Homo sapiens: one gene and its partner. The protein of the gene in region 1 interacts with the protein of each later gene in a pairwise test. Each region holds a gene or a part of one and is shown on either strand. Other genes may lie near its edges.

Region 1 (3,500 bases):
GAAGACATCTTGTCCTCGGCCTGCTACACTGTGAGGAACCTGATGGCCTCGCAGCCACAACTGGCCAAGCAGTACTTCTCCAGCAGCATGCTCAACAACATCATCAACCTGTGCCGAAGCAGGTGGGCGGGGGGTTGCTCCCACGGGCTGCACCCCAATCAGAGCCCCTCCTCACCCTGCACAGCAGGAAGCAGTCCCGCAGCTCTCCATGGAGTAGGGGAAGCACCAAGGGCAGGGGGAGCCAGGGACGGGGGAGGCTTGAATGGAGGAGAAGTTCCAGAAGCCGAGAGTGCGTGGAGAGAAGGGTCCAGCATCCAGGCCCCAGGGCTGCATGGAGGGAAGAGGCAACACACTTCCTGGCTGGGGGACTCGGGGGCACAAGGTCCTCAGAGGGCCAGCAGGAGGCATGGGGCAGCAGGTCCAACTGAATAGGGACTTTATCCTGCTCTGTGGGGCTCTCTCTTCCCCGGACAAGGCTGGGGACTGGAGTGGAAGAGCACTGCCACCTCATGGCCCCTGAGGAGAGTCCTGGGGTGCTCTAGGTGGGCAGGGGCATGGGGTTGTGCCCACTGGGTAGGGTGACCAGGCTCACCACACCCCAATGGGGCTCCTCTCTTTTGCACACCTGAGGCCTCCTCTGAGGCCTCCCCTGTGTCCAGGCCCTGGCAGTGGGGGTGGGAGGGAAGAGGGTGCTCCTTCTCACACCTCCTGGAATCTCATCTCACAAATGCACTTCTCACCTGCCCAGTGCCTCACCCAAGGCCGCAGAAGCTGCCCGGCTTCTCCTGTCTGACATGTGGTCCAGCAAGGAACTGCAGGGTGTCCTCAGACAGGTAAGAGCCCAGGACATCATCCTCTTCTGAGGTTCTTCCTGCTCATGAGCAGAGGGCCTGGCATATGCTGGGCTCTGGGCTGGGCACTAGAGAAACGCCCCTGCCCTTCGGGACAGTCTGAGAGACAAAGACAGCGTCTACGTGAAAATGAATGTGATGAACGTTCTGATCAAGTCTCTGGGCTCTGAGATCTGCGAGGGATGCTGAGAACATGGAGGGCAGAGGAAATCAAGGAAATGTGTGAGAGGCCTGGGGTGGGATCCTTTAGGAGCAAACTGAAAAACAGAGTGGACAAAAAGCACACAAGTCTTTTGAGGGCATGGGGTTCACTCCAGCTAGAAAAGTAGGTGTGGGCTAGGTTACAAAACCCTTCTAATGTCAAACTGAAGAGCTTGGACTTGTACCTTTGGCACTGGGGAACCATTCAAAGTTTTGAATAGAGGGTTTCATGATCAAAGCAGCACCAAAGCTCACCCTGTGAGCAAGGCAGAGTGGGCTGAGAAGCCTGGAGGCTGCTGTCCTTGTCCTGTGGTGACCTTGGCCTCCTCTCTGTCCTCCACCCCTCCCCAGCTAGCCAGGTACAGAGTCCTCTAGGGTATAAGGTCTTGTTGTATGACATCTTCACATGGCCTCTTCTTTCCCATTCCTCAGTGATAAGCATGGACATAAAGGACAGGAGGTGGAAGAAATGGAGCAGTGGGGCTGATTAGGCTGGAGCTTTTAGCTTGGAGACTATGGTTATATTCATAAAGACACATCAGATGAGGAGAGCCTGAGAAGGCTTTTAGGTGGGAGTAAGAGGGGTCCCAATTTGGAGAGGTTGAGTTTGGAAGACTTGGATGGGAGTCCAGGCTGGAGGTGGTGTGGGCCCTGGCAGAGGGGCCAGAGCTACCATACAGAGTGGAGCTTTGTTCAGGCAGGCGAAGCCATGAGAACAGGCAAGACCACCATGGGTTGCATGTGTATGGAAAAGTCTTGAAGGACAGGGCAGAAATATGAAGACCATCTGCTGGGGACAAGAAGGAGGAAAGGCCAGGGAAAAGAGGAACTGTGCAGGGTGCCAGAAGGGGCTGAAGACCTGGTAAGAAGAGAAAGCTCTAAGGAAGGCAGGGCAGCAGTTCCCAGGGCTACCTAGAGGACCAGGGGATGGACACTGGAAAAGGCCCTGGATCCGGTGCTTCGGAAGTCTCTGGAGCCGTCCAGGAGCACTGCTGGCCAAGCAAGGGGAGCCCCATGGGGCCTGCTGCAGTGGGCAAGGCAGTGGATGGGGATGGATGGGGAGTTGCTGAGAGGAGATGCTGCTCCCTGCAATTTAGCCTGCAGAAAAAGGAGCAAAACAGTGGGTAAAAAGAGATCTGTTTAAAGACAGAGGAGACTCAAGCATCTCTGTCATGGGAGGAGAGGGAGTAGGCAAAGAAGGGAGAAAGACAGGGATGGAGGACAGGGAAGCCTGGGGATTGGTTGAGCAGCGTGGGGCAGAAGGAAGCCCAGCTCTTCCTCCAGCATGGCAGGGGACAATAGGGAGACTCATGAACGCACGGTGTCCAAAGATGATTGGGGAAATCTGAAGGTCACAGCAAAGGGTGGCCCTTGTTCTCCATGTGACAATCCAGAGCTCCTTTCCAACAGCACTGCATTGAAGATGGGCTTGGCAAATGGCAACTGCCAGATAGACAAAGGGAGACGAGGAGGCAGGTAAGGAGGACTGGTGTGAGCTTCCTCCCGCTGTGTAATGGTGGTCCAAAGCATTCAGCTTACCCCAAAACACAGAGTCCACCCCCGGCCTAAGACACACAGAGAATCCACTGACATCGCTCTCGGTGGGAATTCCCTTCTACACATGCCTTTGGGAACCAGCGTCCCCATTCAGTCTCCACTCCTCCTTCCAGCTATGCTTGACAACCATCCTGGGCATGATCTAGTTGGTGCGTCTGTTCCCAAAGGGCCTTCACATCCATCATGCATTGAGTTGTCACAAGCACAGGTGAGACAGGCCACATGGCTTGTGTCCATTTTGCTGAATAGGGAATCAGGGTCCAAGGAGTTTGTCTTGATTCAGTGAGTCAGGGCATGAGCCATGCTCGACAGGAATGAGCATGCCAATCTGCAGAAGAAAAATGGCATCATGTAATACATGCCCAAAGACAGGAGGGGCAGGGCTTCGAACCGGCTGCTGTTTCGGATCCCCTATGCCATCTCCCCTCCTGTTCCCACAGGTCGGTGATGGCTGGCTTGGCTCTCAGAGCTCAGGGCTGGCAGCAGGACCCTCTTTTCAAGGGCACCTTGGCCTATTGCTGCATTCAAATCATGCTGTCCACATTCACTTGGAAGCATGTATTGGGCACCTGCTGTATGCTGGGAGAAATAACAGGAATAAGACTCACTCTCCATCCAGCAGGCACTCAGGGGCTAGTGGGGCTGGAGGTGAAGAACAGACAAGTAAACAGAACCTTCTAGCACAGCGGCTTCTTACCAGTGCGAGCCCCCTGCTCCTGTGTTTGAGAAACAATGGGCATGTCCTCTCTGCCCAAGAGCTCTTGTCAGAATTGTTTAAAAAAAGAAAAGATAGAGGTGGTCAGAGGGAAGAACAATTGACAGCTTCTCTAATCTGATTTTGATTGTTGCTCTGTTTAAAAAATAATACTAGCCTAAATCCTCACGCCTTGA
Region 2 (3,500 bases), on another chromosome or scaffold:
AGAATCAATATCATGAAAATGTCCAAACTGCCCAAAGCAATCTACAGATTCAATGCTATTGCTATTAAATTACCAACATCATTTTTCATAGAATTAGAACAAACTCTTCTAAAATTCTTATAGAACCAAAAAAGAGCCCAAATAGCCAAAGCAACGCTAAGAAAAAAGAACAAAGCTAGAGCCATCACACTGCCCACCTTCAAACTATACTACCAGGCTACACTAACTAAAACAGCATAACACTGGTACAAAAATAAACACATAGACCAATGGAACAGAATACAGAACCCAGAAATTAAAGCTGCACACATACAGCCAATTGACCTTTGACAACATTGACAAAAATAAGCAATGAGGAAAGGACTCCCTGTTCAATAAATGGTGCTGGGAAAAATAGCTAACCATATGTAAACGAATGAAACTGGACCACTACCTCTAACCACAGATAAAAATTAACTCAAGATGGATTAAGGACTTAAATGTAAGACCTCAAACTATAAAAGTCCTAGAACAAAATCTAGGAAATAGTCTTCTGGATATCGGCCTAGGCAAAGAATTTGACTGAGTCCTCAAAAGCAATTGCAACAAAACCGAAAATTGACAATTGGGACATAATTAAAATAAAGAGCTTCTCCACAGCAAAAAAAACTATCAACAGAGTAAACAGACAACCTACAGAATGGGAGAAAATATTCGCAAACTATGGATCCAACAAAAGTCTAATATCCAGAATCTATAGGGAAGTTAAGTTAAACAAATCAACAAGAAAAAACACACAACCTCATTAAAAAGCAGGCAAAGGGCAAGAACAGACACTTCTTAAAAGAAAACATATAAGCAGCCAACGAAACATGAAAAAATGCCCAACATCACTAGTCATCAGGGAAACGCAAATCAAAACCACAATGAGGTACTATCTCACACCAGTCAAAATGGCTATTACTAGAAAGTCAAAAAACATCATGTTGGCAAAACCACTGAAAAAAGGGAACTCGTATACACTGTTGGTGGGAATGTAAATTAATTCAGCACCTATGGAAAGCAGTCTGGAGATTTCTCAAAGAACTAAAAACAGACCTAGCATTCAACCCAGCAATCCCATTACTTGGTAAATAGCCAAAGGAAAATAAAATTGTTCTACCAAAAAGACACCTGCCCTTATAAGTTTATCACAGCACTGCTCACAATAGCAAAGATAAGTGGTGGCTCATGCCTGAAATCCCAGCACTTTGGGAGGCTGAGGTGAAAGGATCACTTGAGTTCAGGAGTTCAAGACTATCCTGGGCAAGAAAGTGAGACCCCTATCGCTACCAAAAAAAAAAAAATTTTTTTTAATTAGCCAGGCATGATGTCACATGCCTGTAATCCCAAGTACTTGGGAGGCCGAGGCAGAAGGATTGCTTGAGCCCAGGATTTTCAGACTGCAGTGAGATAAGATAGCACCACTGCATGCCAGTGTGAATGGAACAGCCAGACCCTGTCTCAAAAACAAAACTAAACAAAACAAAAATAGCAAAGACATAGAATCAACCCAGGTGTCCATCAACAGTGGATTGGATAAAGAAAATGTGGTACATACAAGCCATGGAATACTTCGCAGCCAGAAAGAAAGACCACCACCATGTCCTTTGCAGCAACATGGATGCAGCTGGAGGCTGCCTCCACTTATCTTAAGTGAATTAATCCAGAAGTAGAAAACCAAATATTGCATGTTCTCATTTATAAGTGGGAGCTAAACCCTTGGTATACGCGGACATAAAGATGGGAACAAGAGACACTGGAGACTCCAAAAGGAGAGAGGGAGGGAGAGGAACAAGGACTGAAAAATCTCCTATTGGGTACTATATCTACTATCTGAGTGACAGATTCAACAGAAGCCCAAACCTTGGCATCACGCAATATACTCTTGTAACAAACCTGCACATGTACCCCCTGAATCTAAAATTTAAATTTAAATTTTTTTAAAAAATGGGCAACTAGGAAAAAAATAACCCCTATCTCTGGGTCTAAGGTACTAACTGCTGAAAATGAGTGACCTTCGATCATGAAAGTGGCAGTGAAAGTGTAGTTCCCCAGAGAGAGGCAAGCTATACACAAGGCAGGGGGAGGCCAGGAAGAAAAGAGGCTGATTTATAGTATGAGAAAGGTCTTGGGGCTCCAGAGGACTCAAGGGTGGGCGTTAGTGAAGTGGGGGAGGTGAAAAGAGGGGAGAAGAGTGCCTTGGAGATGTGGTGAGACGGAACAAGCCATGAGCATGTTGGAAGGCAGCCAAAGATCCCAGGGGGAAGGCCCCTCTCAGGCTGGTGCATGCTGAGATCCCGAGTCAGGATAGAGGGTAAACACGCGGCTTTGCTCAGTGGCCAAATGGAAGACTGCCAAGAAAGTCAGTGAATGGCTCTGAAGGCAATTCTCCCCATCTCCCACTGCAATCAACAAGAGCTCACCAGGACCCAAAGGCACAGAGCTCCAGGGACTGGAACCGGAGAGGCTAGAAGTGACCCAGCCCTCACACACAGCTTTGCCTTGGAAGTTGAAGGGGGACTTTAGCTGGCCCATAAATATGGACCTTGTACAGACCACAGAAGCAAAAGAGGCAATGGATTAGTATCCAGAACACACAAAGACCTACAGCAGATCACTAAGAAAAATGCAGCCCAACAGGAAAGTGGGCACAAGACACAGACAGGTGACTCAAAGGAAAAACTGGAATGGTACAAACATGTGAAGAGCCTCAACCTCACTGGCAATCTAAATCTGAAGGAAGGGAGAGAAGGACAAAGACAGACAGATGATAGGTGGATGATAAAAATACTCTTTAAGGCCAGGTCCAGTGGCTCACGCTGTAATCCCAACATTCTGGGAGGCTGAGGCAGGTGGATCACTTGAGCTTAGGAGTTTGAGACAAGCCTGGGCAACAAGGTGAGACCCTGTCTCTACAAAAAATACCAAAAAAAAAAAAAAAATTAGCTGCGCATGGTGGCGTGCAGAGTAGCTGGGACCCCAGTTACTTGGGAGGCTGGGATGGGAGGATCACTTGAGCCCCAGAGGTCGCGGCTGCAGTGAGCCGTGATTGCACCACTGCACTCCAGCCTGGGTAACACAGCAAGACCCTGTCTCTCCCCCTCTTCCCCCGGCACCTCTCTCTCCATATACACATATATTTTTTCTCTTTAGAGGAATATAATAAATAGCAAAGTGCTGACAAGGACGTGGGAAACACGAACACTGACATGGTGCAGGTAGAAATGTACACTATGGTGACCAATTTGGCAGTATCTTATCAAATTGAAAATGTCCATGTACTACTTCTCAAATATTTCCTCTGGGAAAACTCCTGGAGAACTCTCAGACAGGTTAGCAAAGAGTTTATCAAGGATGCTCACTACGGCATTATATTTGTCAAGTAAAACCCGAAAGTAACTTAAATGCCCATCAGTCAGGGAAGGATAATCCAAATATTACATCTCCTTTGATGCAAGGTACTTAAAAGGAATGAACTA

What was found. The genes of interacting proteins can lie anywhere in the genome.
Region 2: the proteins of PKP1 (region 1) and HSF2BP interact in binary tests that used the Homo sapiens proteins (3 or more experiments, as listed by UniProt).

The regions. Positions count from the first base shown.
Region 1 is NC_000001.11:201,325,006-201,328,505, forward strand, and holds part of PKP1 (plakophilin-1), read left to right. Parts: coding exon 1-122; intron 123-748; coding exon 749-833; intron 834-3,500. UniProt on the Homo sapiens protein: A component of desmosome cell-cell junctions which are required for positive regulation of cellular adhesion.
Region 2 is NC_000021.9:43,607,489-43,610,988, forward strand, and holds part of HSF2BP (heat shock factor 2-binding protein), read right to left. Parts: intron 2,502-3,500; exon of another isoform or gene 2,399-2,501; intron 1-2,398. UniProt on the Homo sapiens protein: Meiotic recombination factor component of recombination bridges involved in meiotic double-strand break repair.